5 linked regions of the Homo sapiens genome follow. The protein of the gene in region 3 interacts with the protein of the main gene of each other region in a pairwise test. Each region holds a gene or a part of one and is shown on either strand. Other genes may lie near its edges. The genes, in order: SLC4A1AP, CHN1, ADORA2A, POMZP3 and SLC25A39.

Evidence for each region.
Region 1: the proteins of ADORA2A (region 3) and SLC4A1AP interact in a two-hybrid assay, tested with the Homo sapiens proteins (one large-scale study listed by BioGRID and IntAct).
Region 2: the proteins of ADORA2A (region 3) and CHN1 interact in a two-hybrid assay, tested with the Homo sapiens proteins (one large-scale study listed by BioGRID and IntAct).
Region 4: the proteins of ADORA2A (region 3) and POMZP3 interact in a two-hybrid assay, tested with the Homo sapiens proteins (one large-scale study listed by BioGRID and IntAct).
Region 5: the proteins of ADORA2A (region 3) and SLC25A39 interact in a two-hybrid assay, tested with the Homo sapiens proteins (one large-scale study listed by BioGRID and IntAct).

The regions. Positions count from the first base shown.
Region 1 is NC_000002.12:27,668,998-27,674,856, forward strand, and holds part of SLC4A1AP (kanadaptin), read left to right. Parts: intron 1-250; coding exon 251-390; intron 391-5,859.
Region 2 is NC_000002.12:174,878,570-174,884,428, reverse strand, and holds part of CHN1 (N-chimaerin), read left to right. Parts: intron 1-5,859. UniProt on the Homo sapiens protein: GTPase-activating protein for p21-rac and a phorbol ester receptor. Involved in the assembly of neuronal locomotor circuits as a direct effector of EPHA4 in axon guidance.
Region 3 is NC_000022.11:24,439,213-24,444,201, reverse strand, and holds the end of ADORA2A (adenosine receptor A2a), read right to left. Parts: intron 4,909-4,989; exon of another isoform or gene 4,635-4,908; intron 3,620-4,634; coding exon 2,713-3,619; 3' UTR 1,845-2,712; downstream 1-1,844. UniProt on the Homo sapiens protein: Receptor for adenosine. The activity of this receptor is mediated by G proteins which activate adenylyl cyclase.
Region 4 is NC_000007.14:76,623,697-76,630,300, forward strand, and holds the start of POMZP3 (POM121 and ZP3 fusion protein), read right to left. Parts: upstream 3,584-6,604; 5' UTR 3,012-3,583; exon of another isoform or gene 2,520-3,011; 5' UTR 2,369-2,519; coding exon 2,304-2,368; exon of another isoform or gene 2,225-2,303; intron 1,988-2,224; coding exon 1,826-1,987; intron 1-1,825.
Region 5 is NC_000017.11:44,321,158-44,327,615, forward strand, and holds the start of SLC25A39 (mitochondrial glutathione transporter SLC25A39), read right to left. Parts: upstream 3,667-6,458; 5' UTR 3,554-3,666; exon of another isoform or gene 2,421-3,553; 5' UTR 2,406-2,420; coding exon 2,321-2,405; intron 2,187-2,320; coding exon 2,127-2,186; intron 1,696-2,126; coding exon 1,651-1,695; intron 1,396-1,650; coding exon 1,262-1,395; intron 611-1,261; coding exon 543-610; intron 402-542; coding exon 277-401; exon of another isoform or gene 75-276; coding exon 1-74. UniProt on the Homo sapiens protein: Mitochondrial transporter required for glutathione import into mitochondria. Glutathione, which plays key roles in oxidative metabolism, is produced exclusively in the cytosol and is imported in many organelles.

The sequences.
Region 1 (5,859 bases), on a different chromosome or scaffold from region 3:
TCTAAGTTTAAGCTATTTCTAAATTTGAGCCTTTATCGTTTAGTAACCCTTATATTATTGGAGAGTGGGGTGGGATGGGTAAGAAATAGAAAGAAAATATTTTAAATCCAACATTGGAAAGATAGAACAAGATGGATTCAAAGACTGAAAGGCCATCTAAAAAAAAAATGACTATTATCATAGCATAGTAGTTGTTTTCTTGAGAATTGGAGCTTAATGCTGTGCTATAATTCCCACCAAATCAATGAAGATTACCTGTGGACGATTCAACTGGAAAACAACTGGTGGCTGAGGCCATTCACTCAGGAAAGAAAAAAGAAGCAATGATCCAGTGCTCATTGGAAGCTTGTCGGATTCTTGACACTTTGGGATTGCTTCGGCAGGAAGCAGGTCAGTATATAGGAGCCCTTTTTTTCTAGATTTAAAAAAAGGAAAACTCAACACAAACGCTAATAAAACTTCTTTATGGGGGGAAAATGTAAATTGTACAAAATTTTTTGAAGTGAAAAGAGAAAAATTCTCAATACCCTAAGGTAGCCACTGTTTATATTCTCCCAGACATTTTCTATGCATATATAGATGTGTGCTGAGACCTAGATCCTTTAACAAAAAACACTCATACACAAATGTAGTCATATTAATTACAATCTTTTGTGACTTACTTTTTTAACATAAGAATGTATCATGGATGTTGTTATTATTATTATTTTTGAGATGGAGTCTCACTCTGTCACCCAGGCTGGAGTGCAGCAGCATGATCTCGGCTCACTGCAACTTCCGTCTCCCAGGTTCAAGCCATCCTCCTGCCTCAGCTTCCCTAGTAGCTGGGTCTATAGGTTGCACCACCCTGCACAACTAATTTTTGTATTTATTTATTTATTTTGAGATGGAGTTTCACTCTTGTTGCCCAGGCTAGAGTGCAATGGCGCAATCTCACCTCACTGCAACCTCTGCCTCCCGGGTTCAAGCGATTCTCCTGCCTCAGCCTCCCAAGTAGCTGGGATTACAGGCATGCACCACCATGCCTGGCTCATTTTGTATTTTTAGTAGAGACGGGGTTTCTCCATGTTGGTTAGGCTGGTCTCGAACTCCCAACCTCAGGTGATCCACCTGCCTCGGCCTCCCAAAGTGCTGGGATTACAGGCATGAGCCACCGCACCTGGCCAATTTTTGTATTTTTGATAGAGACGAGGTTTCACCGTGTTGACCAGGCTGGTCTCGAACTCCTGACCTCAGGTGATCCACCCGCCTTGGCCTCCCAAAGTGCTGGGATTACAGGCATGAGCCACTGCGCCTGGCCGTATCACGAATATTACATCAATACATTAATATGTATCAATACATTAATTGTGTATTTTGCTTTTTTTTTTTTAAAGTCTGAGTAGAGCATCATTTATTAATAAGGCTTATATTATATTTTTATTATTGCAAAGTAACTTATGTCTGGTTCAAAACTACCAAAAGGCTTATAATAAAATATACTTGTTCCTTGCCCTACCCATCCTCAGTCTTCTTCCCTAAAGGCTTTCAGTTTTTTCAGTTATTTATTCTGGCATTTAAAAACACCTGTATTTCTTGGCCGGGCGCGGTTGCTCACGCCTGTAATCCCAGCACTTTGGGAGGCCAAGGCAGGCGGATCACGAGGTCAGGAGATCGAGACCATCCTGGCTAACACGGTGAAACCCCGTCTCTACCAAAAATACAAAAAAAAAAATCAGTTGGGTGTGGTGGCAGGTGCCTGTAGTCCCGGCCACTTGGGAGGCTGAGGCAGGAGAATGGCGTGAACCCAGGAGGCAGAGTTTTCATTGAGCCGAGATCGCGCCACTGCACTGCAGCCTGGGTGACAGAGCAAGACTCCGTCTCAAAAATAAATAATTAATTAAATTTAAAAAAAAACAACAAACACCTGTATTTCTTTTCTTTTCTTTTTTTTTTTTTTTTTTTGAGATGGAGTCTCACTCTGTCACCCAGACTGGAGTGCAGTGGCATGATCTTGGCTCACTGCAACCTCTGCTTCTCGGGTTCAAGTGATTCTTCTGCCTCAGCCTCCTGAGTAGCTGGGACTATAGGTGCGTGCTCCACACCCAGCTAATTTTTGTATTTTTAGTAGAGACAGGGTTTTACCATATTGGCCAGGCTGGTGTCGAACTCCTGACCTCATGATCCGCCTGCCTTGGCCTCCCAAAGTGCTGGGATTACAGGCGTGAGCCACTGCGCCCAGCCTAAAAACACCTGTATTTCTAAGAACAAGAGTATGGTGTTATATTTTTAGTCACTTATTTTAGACGTTACCTGTCGACTCTGCTAAATTAGTATTTAGTATTTACGTGATTATGCTTATGCAAATATTAGTTATAACTGAGCAGTTTTATTTCTTTTTGTTTTTCCTAAGGGTAATAATTGCGTTTGCTTTTCATGTGTTTGGGGCTTTTTTGTATTTCTTGCTCATTCCTCCCACACCTTTCAGTAGCCTCACCACATCAAACAACTTAATGATTAAGTAATTTATCAGTTCTGATTTGTTTTGGAGACACTTTTTCTGAAGAGCACTATTTTTCTTTCAGGGCTTATTGCTCTGCAGATCTGCTACAGAACTGTCACCTGGGACTTAACTTTCCTATCATCCTTAAGATTTCTTTGTCCTTTCTCCAGGGTTGACTTTTCTGTTTCTTGATTCTCATATTCTCATATTTCTTGGTTTATTTCCTTGCACAGTAGTACATCCTTCTGTACTTTTAGCAGATTAAAAAGCTGGTACAACACTAGAGGGCATGGGTGATGATAGTCTTCAATGAATTTCACATCTTTCCTTTTCTTGGTCTACTCTCTTGTTTTGGTGGACATCCTCTAGTAGATTTCAGAGAAAGAGTGTATAGGAAATAAATTTTATTAATCCTTCTCTTCTGAAAATATAATTATTGTAGCTTCACTCCTGATTAATAGTTTGGCTGGGAATACAATTCTAAGTTGGAAACAATTTTTCTTATTTTACATTCAGTGTTGCTTTTGAGAAATCCTAAACTGTTCAGATTTTGATCCTATTGTATGTCATCTTTTTTTTCCGCCTTGCCAGAGCTTGTAAGAGTTTCCCTTTGTTCTAAAGGTTCTAAAACTATGAAGTACTTTTCTGTGGGTCTATTTTTCTTCATTTTTCTGGGTACTTGTTGGATCCTTTTGATCTAGAAACCTTGGCTGTTCAGGAAGTTTTCTGCAATTATGTCATTAATTGTTTCGTCCCTCTGTTTTCTATGGAATTTTATTATTCAGACATTGGACCTCTTGGACAGACCATTTAAGTTTTTTTTCTTCTTTTTTTCATCTGTATGTCTTTTCCTTCTTGAGAGATTTCTGCACCTTTATCTTTCTGTCTTCTCTATTTTGCCATCAAGGTTTTAATTTCTTTCTCTTTTTTTAAAGTTTTTAAAATCAGGCAGTCTTTCATGCCAGAGAAGGCTCAGAGACTCCAAGGTTTTAATTTCTAAAAGTTCATTTTTGGTTTTTGAATTGTCCTTTTTAAAACATAATATCCTCTTGTTTCATGGGTTGTAAATATCTCCTCTCTGTTTTCTCCATGTTATTTTTCTTTTTATGTGGTCTCTGTTCTGCATGTTAAAGGCTTTTCTTAGGTGTCATGTAATTCTTCATTGTAGTTTTTTTATTTGGGGATGAAAAAGGTGATTGACAGTTTGGAATATATAGGTGGGGTTTCTGCATGGAATATATAGGTGGGGTTTGTTGACTTTGAGCAGTACTATTGAATGATGTGGGTGGGCCTTTTGTTGGGGAACCCTTGATTTAAGTATCCTTTTGGTTTTCCTCGTCTGTGAGCGAGATTCCCCAGAGAGTGCTCTTCCAATCTCCTGCCTGAAACGAAAGGACTGGCTGCCAGCATTCCTAGAGCTAAGTGGTAGAAGGTGGCTGAGTGGCTTCTCATTCAGCTGTTTTCAGGACAGTACTATTTTTAGATTATAGTGCCCATGCCTTCAACTTTACTAGTCAACTCGTAATCCAAAGGCTTTCTGTTTTACCCTTTCCAGAGATTAACCTCTGGATTTCTACTGCAGATGGAAAGGAGATGAGTAGGCAGGGAGGAAGATCTATTTCTCAACCAGTTTTTACTTAGTCCTCCATAACCTTAGTATCCATCCCCAGTTGCAGATCCGTTTGAGGATTCTGCAGTGTAATCACTTTGGCTCTCAGCTTTCCCCACTGTTTAGGATTTATCTTTTTAAATTCTGCTAAGTTAGTTTCTACTCATCTGTCTACTTTCTAATTTTCTAAAATTTGGGTCTTTATGAATTTCTTTCTCTCTCTCTCTCTCTCTCTCTTTCTTTTCTTTCTTTCTTTCTTTTTCTTTTCCTCCTTTCCCTCCCTTCTCTTTTTTCCTTTCCTTTCCCTTACTTTCCCTCCCTCCCTCCCTCCCTCCCTCCCTCCCTCCCTCCCTCCCTTCCTTCCTTCCTTCCTTCTTTCCTTCCTCCCTTCCTTCCTTCTCTTTCCTCTATGCTGCCCAGATTGGAGTGCAGTGGTCTGATCACAGCTCACTGCAGCATCAACTTCCGGGGCTCAAGCGATCCTCCCGCCTCAGCCTCCTAAGTAGCTGGGACTACAGGTGCACACCACCATGCCCAGCTACTTTTTTTAGATTTATTTTTAGTAAAGGCAAGGTCTTGCTATGTTGCCCAGGCGTGGGTACATCTCTTTACTATGGTTTATTGGGATTTAGGGAAAGAGGGAAATTAGATATGTGTGTTTAATGTACCATCTTAACCTGCAAATTAGGCTTATATTAATAAGGACTATTTTCCTTGCAAATAATAGAAGTCCAATTCAAACTAGCTTAGGGGAAAGGTCATTGGCTGCAGAAGCTGGGAAGAATAGCTCAGGATGAAGGAACAGGAGTGAAGGAACAACTGCATGAACCAGAACCTCAAGTTCTGAAACCATAACTTAGTACTACCAAAGTAGACTCAGCATCACCAGGACATATACAAGTTGTGTGTGTGTGTGTGTGTGTGTGTGTGTGTGTGTGTGTGTCTGTGAGTGAGTCTGTCTCACGAGTGCATTTTTAAACTTTGCAGACAGATTCTTACCCTGTGCTGAAAAGCTGATTGCTTACAGCCCTGAACTTAACAGTCTCTCACTTTAATAACCTCATTGTAAAGAGAGCCTCTTTGCCCCATCTCTAAATATAAATATGAGGGAAAGAGTCTTACTGATTTGGCTTTGGTCCTATGACTATCCCTAAACCAGATAAAATGGGGGAGGAATTTTCTAGGGGAAAGAGGTACTTTTATCAGAACAAAGGGAGTAGAATGTTGTAGGGTGAACAAAAAAGTAATAGCTGTCATAGTTTCTTATTGATGGACTCTTTACATATTCACTGTTATAAATACTATTGCATTGATATTTATAGAATAAATTCCTAGAAGTGGAATTGCTGGATCAATGCATTTTTAATGGCAGATATTGTAGGCTTGACCATCAAAAAGGTTGTATCAATGTACATTCCCACCAATTATTAATCTTTTTATGTTTTTCTAGTCTAATAGATGAGAAGTATCTAATTTTTAAATTTGTACTTTATTTTTTTTTAAAGTAACATATTTAAAAATATTTATTGTATTTTTCTGTGAACTGCTTTCATTATCCTTTTTCAAATTTTCTTTTGGGTTATTGTCCTTTTTCTCATTTTTCATTTTCCTTTTTTCCTCATTGATTTTTTTTTTTTTTTGAGATAGAGTTTCACTCTTGTCACCCAGGCTGGAGTGCAGTGGCGCTTTCTCGGCTCACTGCAACCTCTATCTCCCAGGTTCAAGCAATTCTCCTGCCTTAGCCTCCTGAGTAGCTGGGATTACAGGC
Region 2 (5,859 bases), on a different chromosome or scaffold from region 3:
TGGACTATTTTGTGAGCACCAGTTCTTGGTGTAGGTCTGTTTTCATCCATTGTGTAAATGTGTGTTCTTCCATTATAATAAAATTTTTTGAGTTATCGCTTTGATTCCTTTCCCTTCCATTTTGTCTCTTCTCTCTTTCTATAAATGTTAGACTTTCAGGCCGGGCTCGGTGGCTCACGCCTGTAATCCCAGCACTTTGGGAGACCGAGGTGGGTGGATCACGAGGTCAGGAGATCGAGACCATCCTGGTTAACATGGTGAAACCCCGTCTCTACTAAAAAAATACAAAAAAATTAGGCAGGCATGGTGGCGGGTGCCTGTAGCTCCCAGCTACTCGGGAGGCTGAGGCAGGAGAATGGCGTGAACCTGGGAGGCGGAGCTTGCAGTGAGCTGAGATTGCACCACTGCACCCCAGCCTGGGCGACAGAGCGAGACTACGTCTAAAAAAAAAAAAAAAAAAAAAGAAGTTAGACTTTCTGGATTGATTCTCTATCTTAATTATTTTCTCTCCTTTTTTTTATCTTTTTGTCTTTTTGTTCTTTAAAATTTTCTCAACTTTTTTAAAAAAACTTTCATTTATGCTATATTCCTTTTTCTACTTATTTTTCTATATATTCTATATTCCTTTTTTTTACAGGATTCTAATGTTTTTTGGTTAAATTCTATTCAAGAATAGGAACAGGAAACATCTTATTTTGGGTTTTTTGAGCATATTTTCATTCCCATGCATGATTTTGTTTCCTCTAACTTGCTTTGATTCTGTTTGTTTATCATAGTCTTTGTCTTTCATGAGGGGAGTTTTCCTCAGATGTCAGGTGGCCCTTGGCTGACTGCTCATATTGAAGCATATGGGACCCTAAAAGGCTGGCTAGTAGTTCTGAGAGCTTGGAGGAAGCCTGACAATTATAGGATGATGGTCTCTACTCTTAAGTCTTTTTTTGTTGAGTTGATCAGATTTCCAAGAGTAGAATCTTTCAGTCTCCTATCAGGAAAGGTACAAGCCTTCCGATAGCCTCATGGTGAAGAGAAATGGAGGTATCAGTTTCTTTAGTATTTAAATTTTGGGTATTTAAAACTTTCACTTAGTTTTCAAGATGATACCTCTGCTTGTATTCCCTCAGTTCACTATCTCCCTGTTTTATCCTGCCTAGAAAACAGAACTTAAGTCTTCTGCCATGGTGGTGAAGGGATAACAATAGGGACAGGATTAGGGAGGGCAGGAGGAATATCTAACTGCTTTTTAAACGGACTTCGAGTTAATCCTTCTATATCAGTTCTACCTTCCAGAGCTATGTGAGTTCCACTGTTCAGAAGATGGCTTCTTTGGAAGTTTAGTTAGGCAAATTGGATTTCTTCTTCACTGAAAATGATTTATTTGGCCAAGGAAATATCATTATGTGTTGACATAATTTAATACTTTTCTCCATAATCCAAAATTGTATAGCAAGATAGACAAAAGTCATAGCCTGACAAAGTTTTGGATGGGATATCATTTTAATGTTGTATATAACTATGCTCTCTCTTCCATAGCCTTCCTTAGTTCATAGAATTCATCTAAATTTATTTTGTAGTACTTAATCGAATGCATCATCATATTTTATTTCTGTTTTAAATTTTCTTCCAAGAGTATCTTATGATTGAATGAATGTATATTTATATTTCACCATTAGATTAGCTTTTTTGACTCTGGTAAACAACAGACAAATATATATTTATGATAAATAAAACTGTTTTTGTATGTTGGTTGCTGGAAATACTTCTAACATTTTATTGTAAGCTTAGACGAGTGTGTTGTATATGTTTTGTTTTCTGTTTGTTAACACAAAACATCTGTTAGCTTGGAGCTTTCCTTTGAAGAGATCCTTTCAAATCACTTTGGCCTCAAATTAGAATTAATTCTTGGTTTTGCATAAAGTAAAGTAAAATTCCGAAAGCTATTCTGTATATATTTTGTCATCATTTTTTCTTCTAGACTGAATTTTTTGTCGATATGATTTATTTGCTGAAAAATAGAAAAGATGGTATATTAAGGATTTTGTTTATTTTTAAAAAGATGTTAGAATTGTATATCTTGAAATGCATCTGAATGCATCTGGGCACAGCATTAAACAGCTTTTTAAAATAGGAAACCCGAAACCTGGAATCACTGGAGAAAGATATTCTTTCTAGAAAGTGGCATTATGTACAACAGTAGCAGTTAAAAGCCTTTCTTTTCTATTTGTTTACTATAGTAACACTCTGGAGAAAATGAATTTTCATCTTGCTGAACTCTACCTAGGTGAGAGTTGGGCCTATGCAGCTTCAAGTATGTTCACCAAGGAATAAACAGCTATTAAGCAAGGGCAGAGTCAGATAATAAAAGGAAAAGATGAAAAGAAAATTATCTTATAAAAGTCAAAGGGAAATGATTTAGCCTCAACAGTTTTTACAAATCAATGCTCTGTAGTCTAGGGTTCAGTAGCTGTCACTAGGTCCACTTAATATGTCCCGCTTTCAATATATGTAAATCTCTCAGCTTTCTCCTTTGAATTCAGAGGCCTCATTCCCAGGACACAGTGGAAAGACCTTCTTTGCTTGCTCCTCCTACCCGATTTGCACTCTGTTGTCTTCCCACTCTATTTAACCAAGTGGCAAATACAAACTTATTCAGAGACATCCAGGAGAAAATTTCACAAAGAGCTCCTCCTTGCCTTTTGTTAACTGTAAAGTAAATCAGTGCAGAGATGTTCCTGTACAGCCAGTGTTGCCAGTTATTTATTTAGCCATCTTCCATGCATATCTATTGAATATTTTTGCTGTTTTACTTTAGTGTTGGTAACTCATTCTGTCATTCTCTGCAGGGGCCTAAGCTAACAGAGAAGGAGAAAGGGAACTACCACTCGAGCCTACTATATATATTTAGCTTTGACTTAAATATCTTCATGTAATCCTCACAGCCATCTGGGGTAGGGTGATGTTATTCCTATTTTTTAGATGCAGAATCTGACGAATGATTTCCCCAAAGTCACCCAGCTAGGAAGTGGCAGATCCAGGATTTAAACTTACAACTGTCTGATGCCAAAGCCTAAGGTTTTCTCTTAAACATATAGGACCCACATTTGCCTTCCCTTGGCCAAACCATATTTCAAGACTACAGGAGAAGACTGCAAGGATGCTTTTGTACTTGGACATAAGCAGTAGCTCTGAGATCTTATGTAAGCCTAATTGTTGTGCTCTGTTTTACTAGGCAGTGAGTTTCTTGGTTTTATGGTATGAGGGAGATACTGGATTCACTTGGTTTTGTGAATCACTTTACAGAATCTTTCTACATAAGAGCAAGATTCTATATGTATATAGTTATTAAAATAGATCAATCTGAAGACGGACTTTTTTTTTTTTTTTTGAGATGGAGTTTCACTCTTGTTGCCCAGGCTGGAGTGCAATGGTGCAATCTTGGCTCACCACAACCTCCACCTCCCAGATTCAAGCAATTCTCCTGCCTCAGCCTCCGGAGTAGCTAGGATTACAGGCATGCGCTACCACGCCCAGCTAATTTTGTATTTTTAGTAGAGACAGGTTTCTCCATGTTGGTTAGGCTGGTCTCAAACTCCCGACCTCAGGTGATCCGCCCGCCTCAGCCTCCCAAAGTGCTGTTATTACAGGCGTGAGCCACCGCACCCGGCAAGATAGACTTTTTTAAATTTAGCACTTTGTGTATTTGTATTGACCTGTTTTATCTTTTTACCACTGGGGTTACCAAGCGATAGGAACTCTATTGTGAACCACCTAATACTTGACAGTAAAGTACCTGGATGTTTTGTTAACTATTTGTTGAATAAATGACAGTCTGCAAGCAGTGAACTTCAAGGAAAGAGTCTTTCTTTGACCTTAGATTTGGAATCTCCCCCTTTATGGCTCTTCTTATGTAGAATGGGCACATCCATTCCCACCTTTCTCAAAGATTTTCTGTCTTCTTTCTCTTCTTCTAATCCCACAAAGCACAATATGCCTTTCAGATAAAGAAAGTGGAGAAATCTTTGACAGTCTGTGCTGTGGTGCTGTTCCTAGGTAACTTCCCAAGTAAAAGAGAGTAGTTCAGAGTAGGCCAGGAAAGCTTGGCAGTTCTCTTAGTAAAATATAATGCAGTTTTTCTTTAAAAAGATCAATCATAATTCCAAAATGGAAATTTTTTATTTTTACCCTTTGAAGCAAAGTTTTAATCAAACCATGTTATAAGTTTTTTGGTTATGTGATCATCTCCCTTTAGACTGAAAGTTTTATTGGATTGGAAGCCTGGAGCTGAAGTACAGGCGGAGCAGGAATTGGAAATTGTGGGCAGGGTCTCCTGAAATCACTGAGTTGAGAAAGAGAAAAGGATAAATAGGGTTTTTTGCACAGCTCCTTACAGGTAGCCAGGCCTCTTCTTGGATGAATTAGGCATCGTCCATTGGAAAGAACTAGGAAGTTAACTCTAGACTTCCTAGTTCCTAGTCAATCAAACCATTCCCAGTGCAGCCATCTTCCCTTCATGCCCTGTGCCCCCCATACTTCTCAGATTTCAAAAGGCAATTGAGTACTAAATGACTGACACCATTGCTTGGATTGTTTTTAAGTTCTGTATCCACTGTAGAAATGCCCACTGTAAAATCGTAAGTCCCAGCAGGAGTAAAATGGTCTGAGCCCTCATTGAAATGTGTCTGATACAACCGAAATATAAAGGGACTCAATGCTATGTGTGTTTATTATTGTAGGAGTCTTATAAAAGCTATGGAGTTGCTTTCCATGTTGCAGATAATGTATATTAGAAAAAAAGGAAATGATGAAAGCAGTATATTAAACTGAAAAACTTTTATATTTAACTTTGGTGTAGAAATTTCACCTGTCTAATTTTTTAGGCTTTATAATGAAAATATACTTGGGAGAAATGTGTCTTTAACATTAGAGGAAAATGGAGAACAAGAAAGTGTAATTATATGGATAGTTCACTTAAGTGTAAATCAAAATTTGATTGTTACTAAAGGATGGATAAATTATGCTTTAGAAGGGCCAACATGGATAGTACGTTGGATTCTAGATTAAATTGTTATTAAAGTCTAATTTGAACTACAGAAACAGACATCGTCTGGCTATTATTTTAAAAAATATTTTATTTCCTTTCCATACTTTATTTCCACATTAAGATGTTCCTAACTCCTATTCATTTGGAATATAACCTATACCAGAACAATTTTGTTATATAACAAGTTTATAGTCCCATTTAACGCTTTACTTAAACAGCGTTTATTTTAGTATTTTAGTTCATCCCTGTTCTGTTGTACTTTTAACAATGAAATTAAATATATCCTTTGTGACTTGTTTAGTTTTTAATTAGTCTCACTCGGGGTTACCTTCAGGAGACCATTACACTGGCAGCTCTTGTTGCCTTGTTGCCTTTTGACATCTGCTTTCATTAAAGTCAGTGCATTTTCTTGCCTGTGTCTTCCTGCAAGGACACTGATGTTAATCATGCCAAATTGGATCCATTTCTGAGGTCTGCTGCAGGAAGCAAAATACTGAAATTATCATAAAAGTAAACCATTATTCTTCAGTTGTTAGAGCACATCATCAGAACATAAAATTGAAAACAGAATTTCTATAGTCCAATAGCTTATGACTTTTGTGCCGTATGTATTTCAAACATTTCTTGCACAGACCTAACCAGCAGACAGAATAATGACTCTTTAAAAACGAAAGAATAAGTCCTTGGCCTGTGGCCAGAAGTAGCGAAAGTGTGTTTCTGTGCCATCCTGCCCTGCATGGCTCAGGTTTCTGGAGTCAGCTCTACTTTAAGTGATTGCTGGCATCATATTCTGGTTAGCCCTAAATGGAGCTTTCCTATTA
Region 3 (4,989 bases):
GCCCCTGGCCCTGTTCTCCCAGCCCCAAAGCCTACACCCATCTAGCTCAGTACTCAAAGTCTGGTTCCCAAGGTCTCAGAAAAGGCTGGAGAGACGGGATTTCATTCTTCCCTACCTTTGTAGTTCTCTTTCTGGCCTCTTCCCACCAATTGCTCATGAGGACTGGCAGCTTCTGTGCTCTTGGTCTTCTCAGGCATACCCCAGCCACTGTTCCACCCTCAGCCCACAGCCAGTGCAGATCCTAGGAGGGAGGAAGCTGGTGTGGACAGGGGGTGGACTCAGTGCATTTGTATCAGTGGCTCCTTATAGGTTGTCCTGGCTGTCCATAAGAACCCCCTGGGGAATTACTTGATCTACCCTAGCCAATTAATCCAGTGTCTCTGGGGCAAGGGACTGAGGCTTTGGTGCTGATTGAAGCTTCCTAGGTATTTCTCCTGTGCAGCCAGTCTAGAGGACCTCTGAGGATATAACAGTGAGATAGCTAAAACAATCCTTTGTTGGTTTTGGGATAGTTTTGCAGGCATCCATATACTAAAAGTGTAAAGAAGTGCAATGGAAAGGGCTGGGCGCGGTGGCTCACGCCTGTAATCCCAGCACTTTGGGAGGCCGAGACAGGCGGATCATGAAGTCAGGAGTTTGAGACCAGCCTGGCTAACATGGTGGAACCCCATCTCTACTAAAAACACAGAAAAAATTAGCCAGGCATGGTGGCAAGTGCCTGTAGTCCCAGCTACTCGGGAGGATGAGGCAGGAGATTCACTTGAACCTGGGAGGCGGAGGTTGCAGTGAGCCAAGATCGTGCCACTGCTCTGCACTCCAGCCTGGGCAACAGAGCGAGAAAAGAAAACCGTCTCAAAGAAAAAAAAAAAAAGAAGAAGAAGAAGTGCAATGGAAAGAAATGAAATTCAGGAAAGTGGTTGTTTCCAGGCCTAGGATGCAGGGTAATGATGGGCAGGGGTCAGATGCAACATTGTAATGTTTCAGTTCTTAAGCAGAGTGCTGAGGAAATGATGTTATTTTGTACTTTTTGGTTCGGTTCAAATAGTTCATCATTAAGTTAATGGAAACAATGAACATGGATTTTACAGTCAGACAGACCTGAGTTTTAAGTTCACTTCTGCCACTTACTAGCTGTGTGACCTGGAGCAATCATGTAACCTCTCTGGGCTTGTTAATCATCTGTAAAACAGGGCTCACAGGGCTGTGTGAGGATTACCCTTGACATTCTTACACTCCTTCCGGGAGTCCCAGAGTGAGTGAGACCAAACCGGGACAATCACAGCTCTCCACCAACCTCAGGCAGGGGCAGGTTGCTAACTGCCTTCCAGGCCTCAAACTTCGCCATCACAGAAAGATGGCACCACCTCCTCAGGCAGGAGGCCCCTAAGGCCGGGGTCAGAGCAAAAACACCCCTTCCTTCTGGGTTTCTTTTGTTAAGAACAGAAGGAGGGGGATTCTAGGGGAAGGCCGTGTAGCCCCTGCCCAGATCTGTTTGCGGATACCTCTGTGACCTCTGCTAAAGGGTGCAGCAGGGCAGGTGGCGGGTCACAGTTCTGAGAAGGTAACATACAAAGAGATCTTCCCTTAAAGATGTAGGAAGATAAGGAGGGGGGGAGTTGCTGGGGAAAGCCCCTTCTCCCATAGCCCCTGTGGGCCCTCATAGAAATGCAGGTTGGATTGTGGTGCAGCCAGGCAGCCTGTCCCCTCGAGGACAGGACCCTGGGGAGGGCCCCCGGGGCAGGCAGGGTGTCTGCACATACGCACACACTCTCTCATACACAACACATGCCTGTATGTGTGCACAGGCCTAGCTATGGAGTAGGAAACGAACTCAGACGCCATTCTCATTTGGACAAGCTTAAAACACGATGTGGCTCGTTTTTATTTTATCTCAGAAAAAAACATTCCCTTTAGAAGGAAAGGCAGTTAGACAAGGCCTCTCACTGGGTAGCTCTGCGCTACTCAGCACATGCCAGTGGCCTGCCAGCCCCAACCTCTCCCCTGGGACCTGGGCCCATGCTCTGGCACTGCTCTGTTACAACTCCCTGTCCTTGATCCCAGCTTTGTCACTCCAAGAGATGGCCCTGGGACTGAGAAGTGGATGGCAGCTGTGACAGCAGGAGAGGACTGCCTGAGGCTCCCCGGGCAGAGGCTCTGGTGCCAGGTTAGCAGCAGGACCGACGGCAGACCCAGCAGCCAGAGAGTGAAAGGTAATAAAATAAAAAGGGTTTCCTCACACTTACATTTTTCCTGGAAAAAAGTCAAATGTCACCTCTGGGCCCAGCAGCTCCTGAACCCTAGGAGAGTCTAGGGAGAGTGGTGTGTGGGTGGCAGGAGGCTGTTGGAGCCACTCCCCAGTCTCAGGGCCAGGCCAGTCTGCTGTGCCCAAGCTGCTCTGTGGAGACAAGGTGGTGCTTCCAGATGCTTCTGCAGTGGAGGGCTGGGCCCTGCCCAGCAAAGATGCTGCTGGTGCTGTGGCCCCCACCTGGTGCAAGGCCTCACAGCATGAAACATCTGCTTCCTCAGAACCCAAGCCCTTCTTGCTGGGCCTCATGCTGCTCCAGCCTGGGGCTCCCTTCTCTCAGTCCAAAGTAGGAACCGGCTGCCCTCAGGGTCTCCTGGCACTCTCTCTCTTCTCCCAACGTGACTGGTCAAGCCAACCAGAAAGATAAAGATCTCCTTCCCTTAGGAAGGGGCAAACTCCATGAATCATCAGGACACTCCTGCTCCATCCTGGGCCAGGGGGTCATCTAGGCCAGGGGGCTCTGGGCACACTCCCTTGAGCTCATGGCTAAGGAGCTCCACGTCTGGGAGGCCCGTGTTCCCCTGGGACTCTTGGGCACTCCCTCCACTCACCAGCCCCAGGGCATAGCCATTGGGCCTCCGCTCAGGGTGGGGAGCACTGCCGTTGGCCCACACTCCTGGCGGGTGGCCGTTGAGACGGAGGCTGACCTGCTCTCCGTCACTGCCATGAGCTGCCAAGACCCGGGCACTGGTGCCAGCTGCCTTGAAAGGTTCTTGCTGCCTCAGGACGTGGCTGCGAATGATCTTGCGGAAGGTCTGGCGGAACTCGCGGATACGGTAGGCGTAGATGAAGGGATTCACAACCGAATTGGTGTGGGAGAGGACGATGGCCAGGTACATGAGCCAGAGAGGGGCGTGGCTGCAGTCGGGGCAGAAGAAAGTGAAGCAGTTGATGATGTGTAGGGGCAGCCAGCAGAGGGCAAAGAGCCCCACAATGATGGCCAGTGACTTGGCAGCATGGACCTCCTTCTGCAGTGTGGACCGTGCCCGCTCCCCCGGCAGAGGCTGGCTCTCCATCTGCTTCAGCTGTCGTCGCGCCGCCAGGAAGATCCGCAAATAGACACCCAGCATGAGCAGCAGGGGCACCAGCACACAGGCAAAGAAGTTGAAGTACACCATGTAGTTCATGGGGACCACATCCTCAAAGAGACAGGCCACTTGGCCCTCCCCGCAGCCCTGGGAGTGGTTCTTGCCCTCCTTTGGCTGACCGCAGTTGTTCCAACCTAGCATGGGAGTCAGGCCGATGGCAAACGACAGCACCCAGCAGATGGCAATGATGCCCTTAGCCCTCGTGCCGGTCACCAAGCCATTGTACCTGGGGAGAAGAGACCAGCATCAGAGATCTGAGAAGCCAGGGTTAAGCAGGGCCAAGAGTTCAGAACCCCAGAGCAGCACCCGTTTCCACATTTCCTGACTGTAAGGTCTTGGACCAGTCATTTCCTGCCACCTCGCCCCAGCATCCTCTTCCGTTAAGTGGAAGTAATATGCCTTGCCTTTTTCACAGGCTTCTGGGAGGTAACAGGAGAGCAGGCATCCAAGAAATGGAAACCCATGTACAAATGCCCAGATGGTCATTGAGTAGTTTTCGGAGTAGTCCTGGGACTTAGTTTGGTTGGAGGAAATTAACGCATGATTTTTTGAGGGGGAAAACATGATTTTTCTCTAAAGGGAAACGTGTCGTAGCCTTAACCAAGATCAATTACCTCCATGTTGGTCGCAGCCTTAACCAAGATCAGTCACCTCCATGTTGGTTGATCTTGGTTAAGGCTACAACAGGCTTGAAGGGGTCTGGAGGGTGGCTTTACTGGCTAGGGGCAGCACCAGCCAGATCAGACCTATAGAGGATCTAGGCCTCTTGTACTCCATACCCTGTCTTCTCTTCCCCATTTGCCATTTGACTTGGGGACTCCAGAAGCCCTTGAGGAGAGGCAGCATGGAGGGTAAAAGAGGGGAGGAGGTCCCAGGCCAAAGGAGATGCCATTTCTCCCCTCCAAACCCACCCACAGCCCTCTGGAGAGAAATGAGAGAATTACTTGTTAACATTTACATGGCCATCTTAACATTTGCAAGGAAATACTGAGGTCCAGGGGGACAGTAATCTGCCCGAAATCACTCAGTCTTCCTGAGTGAGAGCCAGACAGAAATCCAAGCCTACCGACTCCCAGTCTCATACTCGGGAAATGGCTGGATCTGCCAGCCAGTAAGCAGACCTCAGCCCTGTAGGAAAGGTGGCCTAGATTTCATGAAAGAATGGACAATAAAAAAAAAAAGTCTCCCTAATTTAGGAAGGCAACCTTGATGATCACTGAGGGATGACTTCTGTTTAACAGTTTTGATTCTGGCAAGACCAGACTACACTCCCCTCTACCTGGCAGAAACCCTACCCATCCTTCAAGTCCAGGATAGAGATCTCAAAGAAGTTTCCTACCGAAGTGCAGCAGATCCCCACCACATCTGGGCCCCTCGGGGGCAGGGCTTTCCTACATCCATCTCTGCATTGCCAGCTCCGAGACAGGGACACTCAGAAGGTGCAAGGAGGCCGGGCGCAGTGGCTCACACCTGTAATCCCAGCACTTTGGGAGGCCGAGGCAGGCGGATCACGAGGTCAGGAGATGGAGAAACCTTGTCTCTACTAAAAATAAAAAAAACTAGCCGGCCGTGGTGGCGGGGGCCTGTAATCCCAGC
Region 4 (6,604 bases), on a different chromosome or scaffold from region 3:
GGCTGAGGCAGGAGAATCTCTCAAAACCTGGGAGGCGGAGGTTGCAGTGAGCCAAGATCGTGCCATTTACACTCCGGCATGGCTGACAGAGCGAGAATCCGCCTCCAAAAAAAAAGAAAGAGAGAGAGAGAGAAAGAAAAGCAAAGCACGCTTGGTGACCGTGCTAGGTTTTTTGAGATAAGTTTTTTGTTAAATAAGAGCAATTTTGTTTAAGTTGGGGGTTATTTAAAGATTGTTTCAAAATATGGATTTAGGAAGGAAATAGAAACAAGGTGGGAAGAAGGCCAGTAAGTAGGAGAGACGTGAAAAAAAGTTATGAGGATGTATTTTTGGTAAAGAAAGTTGAAAAAAGAGTAATTTTTTATTTTGCATGAGAGAGGACTTTGGTCAAAATCAAGAGGAAAGGAAAGTAAATTTCTGTCCTAAAGTAGATTGCTAATATAAAAAAAGTATAGGACAAAATCAAAGATTTAAGGAAGTGTAGAAGTTGTGGAAGATTAATCTCATGAAAGGAATTTGGTGTGTGATTAAGCTGGCCGAAATTAGAAGGGGATTATTTATAAGATTTTCGGCCAGGCGTGGTGGCTCATGCCTGTAATCCCAGCACTTTGGGAGGCTGAGGCGAGCTGATCACCTGAGGTCAGGAGTTCGAGACCAGCCTGCTCAACATGGCGAAACCCACTTCAACTTCTTTTCTTTCTGTAATTAGAAAACTATTCCATTTTCATTAGGTTATTTTACAAACCACATAAGGAATTTTTTTTTTTTTCAGACAGTCTCGCTCTGTCACCCAGGCTAGCATGCACTGGCATGGTCTCGGCTCGCTGCAACCTCCGCCTCCTGGGTTCAAGCAATTCTCCTGTCTCAGCCTCTGGAGTAGCTGGGACTACAGGCACCTACCACCACATCCAGCTAATTTTTGTATTTTTAGTAGAGACGGGGTTTCACCATGTTGGCCAGGCTGGTCTCGAACTCCTGACCTCAGGTGATCCACCTGCCTGGGCCTCTCAAGGTGCTGGGATTATAGGCGTGAGCCACCTTGCCCTTCCAGGAAATTGGTTTTAATCTCATTACTGATAAAACTACCAAACTCTAGTTTTCATTTTTCTTTCCCAAGCATTTCCTTCAGCACAATTAAGACACTAGAACTGGTGGGCCGGGCGCCGTGGCTCAAGCCTGTAATCCCAGCACTTTGGGAGGCCAAGGCGGGCAGATCACGAGGTCAGGAGTTCGAGACCATCCTGGCCAACATGGTGAAACCCTGTCTCTACTAAAAATACAAAAAAATTAGCCGGGCATGGTGGCGGGCGCCTGTAGTCCCAGCTACTCGGGAGGCTGAGGCAGGAGAATGGCATGAACCTGGGAGGCTGAGCTTGCAGTGAGCTGAGATCGGGCCACTGCACTCCAGCCTGGGGGACAGAGACAGACTCCAACTCAAAAAAAAAAAAAAAAAAAAGACACTAGAACTGGTGGTTACCCAAATAACTGAACACCACAAAATTCCGACCAGAAGACTTAGAGCCTTCTTTCTTGAAAATAAACTTTTAACACGTTTCTACAGAAGCATGAGGCTAACATGGCTAATAGCTGTCAGCTTATCTCTGCTACTCACAGAAAAGGTAAATTATGACATCGATCTAACCTGTGCCTTGAAATGATCAGCATTAAAACCCCTGTTATTAGGTTCTTTCATGAAAGCCAAAGAAGGAGGCCTATGAAGGCTCACAAACTGGAGGTGGCCTCTGTATCTTTACGGGAATGTCTACATCTCATCCCATAGGAGTCCAAGCGGGAAACTGGCTTAGTACTCTCCTGAGCCTGTTACCTTCTTTTATTTTCCTGGCCATCAAGGAATATTTGGTCTTCTTCCTCCACTGTCCTTTTCTTCTTCTTCTCTTTGAGGGCACTCAGTACAGTCTCCTTTGCACATGGGTCTGGGGCATTACTTGATGGTGAGGACAGTGTTGAGCTGATTATCTGCTCTGGTCTATAATGAAAGACAGGATTCTAGCAGTAAGATATTTTAATTCCCATGCCATATCAGAAATGGAAATCAGAAGCTAACCAACAAGCCAAAGTATAATTTATACACTCACAACAGTTCCCCTTAGCAAGTAAAGCTACTTTTTCGTTAACGGCAAAAAGTGAAAAACAAACGGTTTTACTAGAATTTGGTATTTCTCATTCAAACAAGCAGATTCGTCCTTTCTTTTTTGCGTTGTAGTCATGTTGTCATAGGAACAACTGGAGAAGAATAAAGTGGACACGAAAAGGGAGAGTATTCTTCCAACGATAATACTCACATCGCAGAACGCGAAAATCTTCTGTCAGGAGGGGCGATCCTCAGAGTCACTGGGCTACACACCATCCTGGAGTTGCGAGGGGACAGCACAGCCTTCTTGTGATAACCATTCCAGCACACTGTGGGAAGTACCCCCGGACAGGAATACTGGGCCTGATGGATCGGATAGCGTCTTCGAGGTGTTATTACAAACCGATCTGGTAAAGTCCCACGATCCCTGCAGAGAATGCGAGACAAATCATGGAAACAAAGTATAAAAGAATGTCAAAATTTTAGACGGTTAAAAACCCACCAGTTAAGACATTTTCCAAAGAACTTAAGTCTCTTTCTACGCAACACAGAACACGTTGTTTTTATGGCAACTTTCCCCTATTCCATCTAAGAGCAGAGAGTGACAGCTGCTTAACAGCTGTCTCAACAATGGATTGCAACAATTTGAGAGGGAAAATCTAAATCTAGACTAAATCTAGACTGCACTAAAATTCGGGGAGTTTTTAGAACTGGAAAGAAGGGAATCGTTTTGGCAACACATCTCACACCAAGCAAGAGTCAGAGGCCAGGAGACGGCTGGCACACACCAAGGTGTTAAGGAGGGCAAAACCACACACAATTCCCTTCGGATTTGATGAAAAAGCAAATCGGATTTAAAAGTCCTCGATTTCAAGCCAGCCGAGCCAAAGGATGATCTGGGAAAATCAGCGCATCTCACCGTGGGGAAGGCCTCCCGGAGGGTCGGAGAAGAGGAGTGGGGAGAGAGGGGTAAAAGTGGTGAACGCGATGGGTCGGCGGGGAGGGCGGTGTGGAGCGCGGCGCCGGGCGGGCGGGCGGCGGCCAGGCCTATTCCGCAGGTCCTGGCCCTCCGGAGCGGGGGCGGGCTGCGGCGGCCCGGGCTTGCCCAGGTAACTGCCCATGAGGAGCAGTTCGGCAGGGTCAGGTCCTTCGAGCAGGGTCCGCGGCTCTAGGAGGTTTCCGTTGGCTGTCGACTTGGCCGGAGGCGAAGCGAACAGTGTTCGCCGATGTCGCGCCTTCTGAACGAAGGAGGACAAGGGGCGCGAACCTCGGGGCTCGCGGCTCAGTCCCCACCAGGCCGCGGTAGTCCCCACGGCCAGCCAGGCCAGCGCAGCCGCAGCAGGCACGAGGTACAGTAGGAGGCCGACCAGCGACAGGCCGAGAAGCGCCGCCCCGGCCGGCCCTGACACTCGCTATCGGCCGCCGCCGCTCGCCTGCTCCAGCCGCCGCAGCCGCCGGAGACATCGCGGCTCCGCGCCGCGGAGGAGACTTAAATATCCCAGCGTGCACCGCGCCACGCGTCGCGTCATCGCGCGCCCGCCACGTCATGCGCGCGCGACTCGGGGAGACGCTACAGCCCGGCAGCTCCCGAGACACAGCTGTTTTGGAAAATGCTGCCTGCCTTCAACGCCTGTTTCTGACTCTTGCGGTTTCCCGCATGGCTCCCAGCGAGACGATCCCGTCCGGGATCCCATCCGGCTCCCATCCGGAGGCGATCCCGTGAAAGGATCGCGTCCAAAATAAAAGGGCCCGAGACCTATGCTTATGTAATTCCTAATCCGTGATCTTTTCTAGGGGCTGAACTCCCCTCCAGCACAGCCTGTTACCAGGTGCTTTTCACAAACGCCACTGGCGGCTGAGTTTTCCCCCCCACTTCCATTTCTACTTTACAAGTTGATAACGTGGGACGATTACCTACCAAATTTCACATCATGGCCCAGACATCGGGTGGATTTTGAGGCTCTGTGATCGATTTATACCTATGCTAAAGTTATCGGTCTGAGAAAGTAGATTAGTGGTTGCCTAGGGCTAAGGAGTGGGTTTGGGGGTGGGGAATAGAAAATGACTGCTTATGGGTATAGGCTTTCTCGTAGCAGCATAAACATAGTTTAAAATTAGATCGTGTTGGCGGTTGCACCACCCTATGAACTGTATGGTTTGTGAATTATATCTTCATAAAGCTGTTTAAAAAGTCTGGTAGTCTGCCAATACACTTTGGTGTAGTTAAGTTTCCTCAGACATTCATTCATTGATTTATTCATTCCATTGTTTATATACATTAAAGAGATTAAGGGGGAAAATAGAGGATCTCTGATCTTTATAAGCTCTGTTTAGTAAGGAAGATGTGTAAGTAAAAGATTGCAATTCAATGTTATCAGTGTGATAACGGGAACAAAAAAAGAGGCCAGACGCAGTGGCTCATGCCTGTATTCCCAGCACTTCGAAGGCGGAGGCGGGCGGATCACCTGAGGTCAGGAGTTCAAGACCGGCCTGACCAATATGGTGAAACCCCGTCTCTACTAAAAATACAAAAATTAGCTGGGCATGGTGGCGCGTGCCTGTAGTCCCAGCTACTCGGGAGGCTGAGACAGGAGAATTGCTTGAGTCCGGGAGGTGGAGGTTGCAGTGAGCCGAGATCATGCCACTGCACACTCCAGCCTGGACGACAGAGCGAGTCCATCTCAAAAAAAAAAAAAAAAAAAAAAAAGTTGTGATAAAGGGGAAGGAAGGCAGGGAAGTGCTCCTGGAGCTGAGAGGTCTGGCAGGTTCAAGGAAGATGAAGGAGCACTGTGCAGAAGTCCAGAGATGGAATTGTTCAGTATCGCTGGAGATTAGGGTGTTTTGGGGATAGAAAAGTTGGAAAGGTATAGATGCCTCTGGGGCAACTCAGAGAGATGAGAAGAAGGTGCAGTTTGGGTTCCAGATCCTCCCCAACCCAGTGCCAAAGTAATTCTTCTATTTAATATACTGTGATTTCACATAAGACTTAATTTGAAAAAAAAGGGGGGGGGGCGGAGGGGGGACTGTGTTGCTTAAGAAAAAAATCTCAGTATCAGTAGACTAGTGGGACAAAAGCCAGGCTGCCCTGGGTTGAACAGTGACTGGAAGGTGAAGAAATGGAGGCAGTGACTGCAGACTCCCTACTCAAGAAACCTGGGTAATAGGGGAAGAAGAAACATAGTGTCTAGGTCAGTAGGGGCTCTTTGAACTATTGTGTGTGGCTGGAGTTAAGTGGAGGAGCTACACATAAAAGCCGTCAGGGTACAGATGTCCTGAAACCAAGCAAGATGACTGAGAATTAATGTAAATAGAGAGGTCCATAGCCTGAGCCCTCGGGGCACTCCTGTGTTTAGAGGTAAAGAGATGAATACACAAAGGGCACAAGTCATGTAGGAAATATAGATAAATATGACTACATTAAAAGTTAGTACTTCTGGGCCGGGAGTGATGGCTTACACATAATCTAGCACATTTGGAGGCGAGGCTGGTGGATTGCTTTGAGCTCAGGAGTTCGAGACCAGCCTAGGCAACATGGTAAAACCCAGTCTCTACTAAAAAAAAACACAAAAATTTGCCTGGTGTGGTGGCATGTGCCTGTAGTACTACTCAGGAGGCTGAGGCTGGAGAATCGCTTGAACCCAGAAGGCAGAGGTTGCACTGAGCTGAGATCGCACCACTGCACTCCAGCCTGGGCAACAGAGTGAGATCACACACACACAAAAAGTTAACACTTCTGTATGGGAAAAGACAAGATACACATCTAAAAGACAAGCCAAGACTGGGAAAAACAACGTAACACATATAACCAAAAGAGGATTCATAAGTAGAATTTATAAAGAACTCCAAAGAATCAATAACAAAAAGATGACCCAACTTTTAAAAAGGACAATTGATATAAAAAAGCTATCGAATGGGAAACACAAATACCTAATAATATATACATATGTGCATATACGTACATACACATATACATTTAACCTCACTAGTAATCTAGGAAAGACTAACAATATTTTGCACTCATTTATACACTAGAAAAATTAATTTAACAAGATCAAGTCTTAGCATGGATGTGAAACAAACAGAACTCATGCCGTTGTGGATATATGAAACAGTACAATTTGGAAAGCAATTTGGCAATAACTAGTAAAAAATAAGGGTGAAGAAGTATGTATCCTATAAACCCGCAATCCCATTCTGGGTAGATAGTCACTGAAGCATTATTTGTATCACAGACAATGTGAACACACTTCATGGGTAATGTCTATCAACACAAGGATGGGCAAACTGGTATAATTCATATAATAAAATACTATAAAGCAGCTGAAAATTAATCCTTCCAGCTGCAGGTTAGTCCTCCCACCATAAACAACTGTAGACATGGACAAAATGTATTGATTAATAAATTTGTTAAAAAAAAATCTGGCAGTCTGCTGATCCAGACTTTGGTTTAACTCATGCTGTGGTGGATATATAAAACAGTACAACTTGGCAACTACTTTCAGGCAGAGGACA
Region 5 (6,458 bases), on a different chromosome or scaffold from region 3:
CCGGTACGACACATGCTGAGCCTGCAGCTTTGTCCGCATAAGCTCCAGGGGGCTGATCACAGTCACGGTGCCCACTGTGTGGGGATTGGGGGTGACAATGGGGAGAAGTGAGATCACAGGTCTTACATGGCATCACCTACCTGCTGTCCCAGGTCTGGGGACCTAGAACACCCCCCTATCCCTAGGCTGGCAGAGGTTGGGGCTGGGAGCTGGGACTGACTGGGTTTGGGCCGAGGTGGGGACAGAGGGAGGTCAAAGGCCCAAGACTATGCTCACGGCGGGCCAGCGCGCCAGCCACCATGGGTGCGTAGAGGTCAGAGGTCAGGGCTCGACCACACAGGAAGGCCTTCAGTTGGTCATAGGCAGTGAAGTAGATGGCGGTAGCTGGCACAGTCATCACCCTGGGGATACAGAGAGAGGTTAGCTGGGACTCCCAAAAGGACCCAAACTTTTAAAGCATCACCTGCCCCACCTAGCCATTCAACAGGGAGCAAAGGGTCAGGAAGTACCAGAGGAGAGTGGTGCAGGACCCGGCTACTCACAGGGTGGCGGGGAGGCCGCTCCAGAGGGTCCTGGTGCCCTCGTGCCTCACGATCTTCACGAAGGCATCCTGGCCAAGCAGGCACCAGCCCAGGGGAAGAGGAGGGACACAAGTGATGTCTGTGATGGGGCTGGCCCAGGCTAGGCCTTTGCCTGACGCCCTCAGCCTCTGCCCACAGCCCTCAGGCCTCCCTGCCTCTACACATGCAGTACCCCAGCAGCTGGGTCCAGGCGGACACCTGGTCACCCTTCAAAAACCTTATGGAGGCCAGGCACGGTGGCTCACATATGTAATCCCAGCCAGCACTTTGGGAGGCCAAGGCGGATAAATCACTTGAGGCAGGAGTTCGAGACCAGCCTGGCCAACACGGCAAAACCCTGTCTCTACTAAAAATACAAAAATTAGCGGCAGGTGGTGGTGCACGCTTGTAATCCCAGCTACTTCGGAGGCTGAGACAGGAGAACCACTTGAACCCAGGAGACAGAGGTTGCAGTGAGCTGAGATCACACCACCGCACTCCAGCCTGGGTGACAGAGCGAGACTCTGTCTAAAAGAAAACAAACACCCCATGGAGGTACTGCCTTCTCCGGAAGCACTTCCTGACGGAACCGGCTACCTCTGCGTGCCTTGCCCAATCCCTTTACTCCTGGGTCTGCTGCCCAGCCAGACCGAACTCCTCACGGACACCGACGAATCCCTACGGACCCAGCTGCTCCTCACCATGGTGCCAGTGAAGCGGGTAGGGTCTTGAAACCAGGTGGCACAGCGGGCACCATTTGGGCACAGGTACAGAGGCTCCAGGACACCATTGCAATACAGGAGGCACTTCCCTGTGGATTGGAGAGAGGAGGGCACTGGGGAAAGGCAGGGGGCATTATAATGACAGGATCCTAGAACCTTGCAGGGAGGCAGTGGGCCCCTATCCCTGGAAGGCCAGTAAAGGCCAGGTCCCTGTGTGGATGTTCTGGTGCAGGTCACAGGACTGGCTGGCAGGACCTGGGAGTATATGCTAGTCCATGGCTGTGGAGCCCACTGGTGCCCTGGGGACAGGGACAAGGACTGTCTCCCCCTTGCACCCTCCCATGCTCCCTGTGGCTTGGGGCACTCACATTTGGTATAGGAGAGGCTCCACAGTCTGGAGGAAGGCATCAGCTCTAAAATACAAGGCAGCCCCTCAAGTCAGGAGAGCCCCCACCCGCCCTAGGGACCCCATCTCTGGGAGATCTTTTTATTTTATTTTTTGAGATGGAGTCTTGCTCTGTCGCCCACCCTGGAGCATAGTGGCACAATCTCAGCTCACTGCAACCTCCACCTTCCCGGTTCAAGCGATTCTCCTGCCTCAGCCTCCCAGGTAGCTGGGACTACAGGCGCATGCCACCAAGCCCGGCTAATTTTTGTAGTTTTAGTAGTGAGAGAGTTTCACCACGTTGGCCAGGCTGGCCTTGAACTCCTGATCTCAGGTGATCCACCCACCTCAGCCTCCCAAAGCGCTGGGATTACAGGTATGAGAAACCACGGCCAGCCTCTGGGAGATCTTTCTTTTGCCCAGGCACCACCCCTCACTAGTTCCAGGTCAGGTACTCACCGCTGGCCATGGAGGGCCGCTGAGACTGCAGGCGAACCTTCACCACGTCCAGGGGTGTCACTGGGGGAGGAAGCGGGTCTGAAGGCTCCTTTCAGGACCCCACCCCTAGGACTCCTCCCCCAGGACCACACAGCCTCCAATCTCCGGTCTGCCCCATCCCCACCCGCCCCCACCCCACCTCCCCTAGGTCTTACTGAAGAGAGAGGTAACCACAGCCCCGGTGCCTGAGGCCACCATTTGCTGGAGGGGGCTGATGCCCGCAGGGTCCTGGTCAGCCATCTTGAAGCTTCAGTCCTGAAAACCAAACCTCAAACAGACCACAACTCCAGGGATGGCAGGAAAGGAGGCTGGGCCACTGTGAGACTTTTGTTTTGAGACGGCGTCTCGCTCTGCGCACTGTTGCCAGGCTGGAGTGCAGTGGCACCATCTTGGCTCACTGCAACATCCACCCCCGTTCAAGCGGTTCTCTTGCTTCAGCCTCCCAAGTAGCTGGGACTACAGGCGCGCACCACCACGCCTAGTTAATTTTTGCATTTTTAGTAGAGACAGGGTTTCACCATGTTGGCCAAGATGATCTCGATCTCCTGACCTCGTGATCCGCCCGCCTCAGCCTCCCAAAGCACTGGGATTACAGGCGTGAGCCACCGCACCCGGCCCACTGTGAGACTTTAACCCAACCCTCATCCACCGCCCTCGAAACATCTGTTGCCTCAACAACCCTGGCAATGACCTCTAAAGCAGGGACTGTCCGCCCCCCTCCGCCGGGGAAAACTAAGGCTCGGGGAGACGAGGTGGCCTGCCCAAGGTCACTCAGGAGTGGTTCCGAAGGAAGCTAGGGTGCCAGACCTATCGCTCGAATGCAGTAGGAGCCAGGGTCCTTCCCTCGTCCACCTCGCACGTGTCCACTGCGCACCTCCTACGTGCAGGCGCGGATTTGGCCCTCGTGGCCCCAAAATCAGAGTACCTGTGCTGCCCCCACAGCCCCCACTCCAGCACCAAGGCCCCGGGCAGGCACCTGAGAGCCCAAGTTACTGGGCGTGGAGGGACGGCCGGGCATCGAGGGTGACGTGTAAACAGATCCGGTGACCAAGAAGGGCCCGTCGCCTCCTCAGGACTGCGGGCTGGGATGCCCGGCCCTCCCCGCCCGGCCGGACGGGCCAGACCCGGGGCCCGGAGAGAAAGAGCAGTCTCTGGGTTCCCGCCCCAAAATGCAGGCCCGGGGCGCAGCCGGGAGAGCGGGAAGTAGGAACGTAGGACCAGGACGTCTCCCCGACCCTCGGCGACACTCCCGGCCCCGAACGGCGGAGAGCCGCCAGGTGAGGGGGACCACGCCAGCTCGACGGCCCCAGCACCTGCCCTGGCTCGCACGGCCGCCCGGAGACCCCCGCTTCCGTCTCCGCCCCCAGCCCCGGCCCAGTGCCGCCTACCTGGCTCTAGGCTGGTGCTCGTGCGGCGCGGCGCCCAGGGTCAGGCGGGCCCATACCGGCTCCGCCGCCTGTGCGCGGTCCGCGCGCGCTCGCAGCGCACCTAGGCCGACGCCGAAAGCAGCCAAGGGGGCCCCGCCCCTACACCGCGCCACGAGGCCCCGCCCGCCGCGGGCCGACCAGCCGCAAGCCCGGAGTGTCCCCGGCTCCGCCCACTCGCGTCTCCGCCCGGACCTGCGACGGTCCCGCCCCCTTGACGGGGCCGCGCGGGCGAGTTCCATGCCTGTCCAGCGCTGAGAGCTGCCGGCCAACTTCGCGGTCTCCACGTCGCGCTTAACGTGGCAGCAGCACGCACTTCCAGCATCTTTTTTTAGACAGCATCTTTTTCAGCCTCGCTCTGTCGCCGAGGCTGGAGGGCAGTGGCGCGATCTAGGCTCACTGCAGCCTTGACCTCCCGGGTTCAAGCGATCCTCCTGCCTCAGCCTCCGGAGTAGCTGGGACCACAGGCGCGCGCCGCCACGCCCGGCTGGTTTGTTACTTTTATTTTTGTCTCCCTATTTTGCCCAGGCTAGTCTGGAACTCCTGGGCTCAAGCGATCCGCCCACCTCGGTCTTCGAAAGTGCTGGGATTCCAGGCGTGAGCCGCCGCGCCGGCCTTAACAGCGCATTTTCACCAGCCCCGCCCCGGCCGCGCGCGGCACTGGAAACCCCAGCGCCTTCTGGACGGCGAGGGTGACGCACTGGCCCTCTTCCTCGGTGTCCTCAGGTGCGTGGCGGCGGCAGTGAGAATGAGTTCTTCGAGATCGCCGGGAGACCACACAATAACGACGAAGTTACTTGCCGGGCTACCCGCCGAGACTTGAAAACTTCGCGGCGACTTCTCTCGCCGGCCTTAGCATCGCCCCCATTTTTCAGGTTACAGGACAGGCCTGCAACTGCAAAACGCTTTGTAAACCACAGGGCCCCGCGCGGGTGTGCGCCACTGGGTTAGCTGAGCTGCAGCCCGGGCCGGGCGGGCTGGGACGTGAGCAAGCCGGGGGAGACGGGAGAGCCATGGGGAGCCAGATCCCACCTTCGCGTGACCTTGGGCAAATCACAACCTCGCCTAAGGCCCGGAATGACTCTGCGCGGAGAGGAAGAGCACTGAGTGCGGGAGGGCATCGACGTTTTGGTGTTGGTTGCTCTCGTATCGTGATTTCTTCTGAGTCTCAAAACTCTTTGCAGTAGGTTATTGTTGAAATAGATTACCACAGGCCGGGCGCGGTGGCTCACGCCTGTAATCCAGCACTTTAGGAGGCCGAGGCGGGCGGATCACTTGAAGTCAGGAGTTCGAGACCAGCCTGGCCAACATGGTGAAACCCCGTCTCTACTAAAAATACAAAAGTAGCCGGGCATGATGGCTGGCGCCTGTAATCCCAGCTACTCGGGAGGCTGAGGCAGGAGAATCGCTTGAACCCGGCCGGCGGAGGTTGCAGTGAGCCGAGATCGCACCACTGCATTCCAGCCTGGGCAACAGAGTAACACTCCGTCTCAAAAAAAAAGGCCGGGCGCAGTGGCTTACGCCTGTAATCCCAGCCTTTTTGGAGGCCGAGGCGGGCGGATCACCAGAGGTCAGGAGTTCGAGAGCAGCCTGACCAACATGGTGAAACCTCGTCTCTACTAAAAATACAAAAAATTAGCCGGGCGTGGTGGCGCATGCCAGTAATCCCAGCCACTCGAGAGGCTGAGGCAGGAGAATCGCTTAAACCCGGAAGGCGGAGGTTGCGGTGAGCCGAGACTGCGCCATTGCACTCCAGCCTGGGCAACAAGAGCGAAACTCCGTCTGAAAAAGAAATAGATTACCCCGTTTTACAGAAAGTGAAACTGAGGCTCGACGTGAAGAGCCGGAGATTCGAACCGGCCGGGTGCTTTTCCCAGGGCTCCACACTGCCTCCCCGGGAGACAGGAAGGCTTAAGTCCAGCGCTGCCCTCTCCGATCCCGCTTGTCAGGGAGACACTTTATTTCCCGGGGCAGCCCCGTACCCCAGGCCCCACCACCCACTTCGCGTTTAGAACTTCTGTGCTATCTTGCTTATTTGTCCTAACAGAGAAACCAGCACGCGCGGGCGGTGGCGGAGGGGGGCGGGCGGGCGGGTGGAGGCGGGGGGGGGCGGGCGGGGAGATGGGTACTCCTAGCCTGCGCCTTTAAGAAGGGTAGGCCTCGACTTTGACGTCTCTGCCTTCCCCGCCCTTCAGGCCCCCACTGGTCGCGTCCGGCGCTGGAGGAGCCCAGTCAGCCGGCGCCTGCCGGGTTAGCACGTGGACTCCGAGGGGCCAACTATCAGCTTTCCCTGACAAAATGCCTTTGAGCTCCCCCACAGCTCTGAAACTCCAGCTTGGGAGCAGGGAGAGTGCAATCTGTGACCTGTAAAGGGGCGCTGGGCAAAAGGGCCCGAGAGAAGGCGTCCTTTCCATTCCCTTCCCATCTCAAGCTGAGTTCAGAAATGACACGAAATAATTTAATCAACTATCAGTCAAGGTCGGGCTCACGCCTGTAATCCCAGCAGTTTGGGAGGCCGAGGTGGGCGGATCACCTGAGGACAGGAGTTCGAGACCAGCCTGACCAACATGACGAAGCCCCGTCTCTACTAAAAATACAAAAATTAGCCAGCGGTGGTGGTGCGCACCTGTAGTCTCAGCTACTTGGGAGGCTGAGGCCAGAGAATCGCTTGAGCCCGCGAGGTCGAGGCTGCAGTGAGCCGAGATCACACCACTGCACTCCAACCTGGATGACAGAGGGAGACTCTGTCTCAAAAAATAATAAATAAATAAATAAATAAATAAACTATCGGTCAAGGTGAAAGCCTACTCTCCGCCAAGGTTCTTTACAACTTAGACGTTTTGGTTTACGGAACAGGGGAGGAAACTGA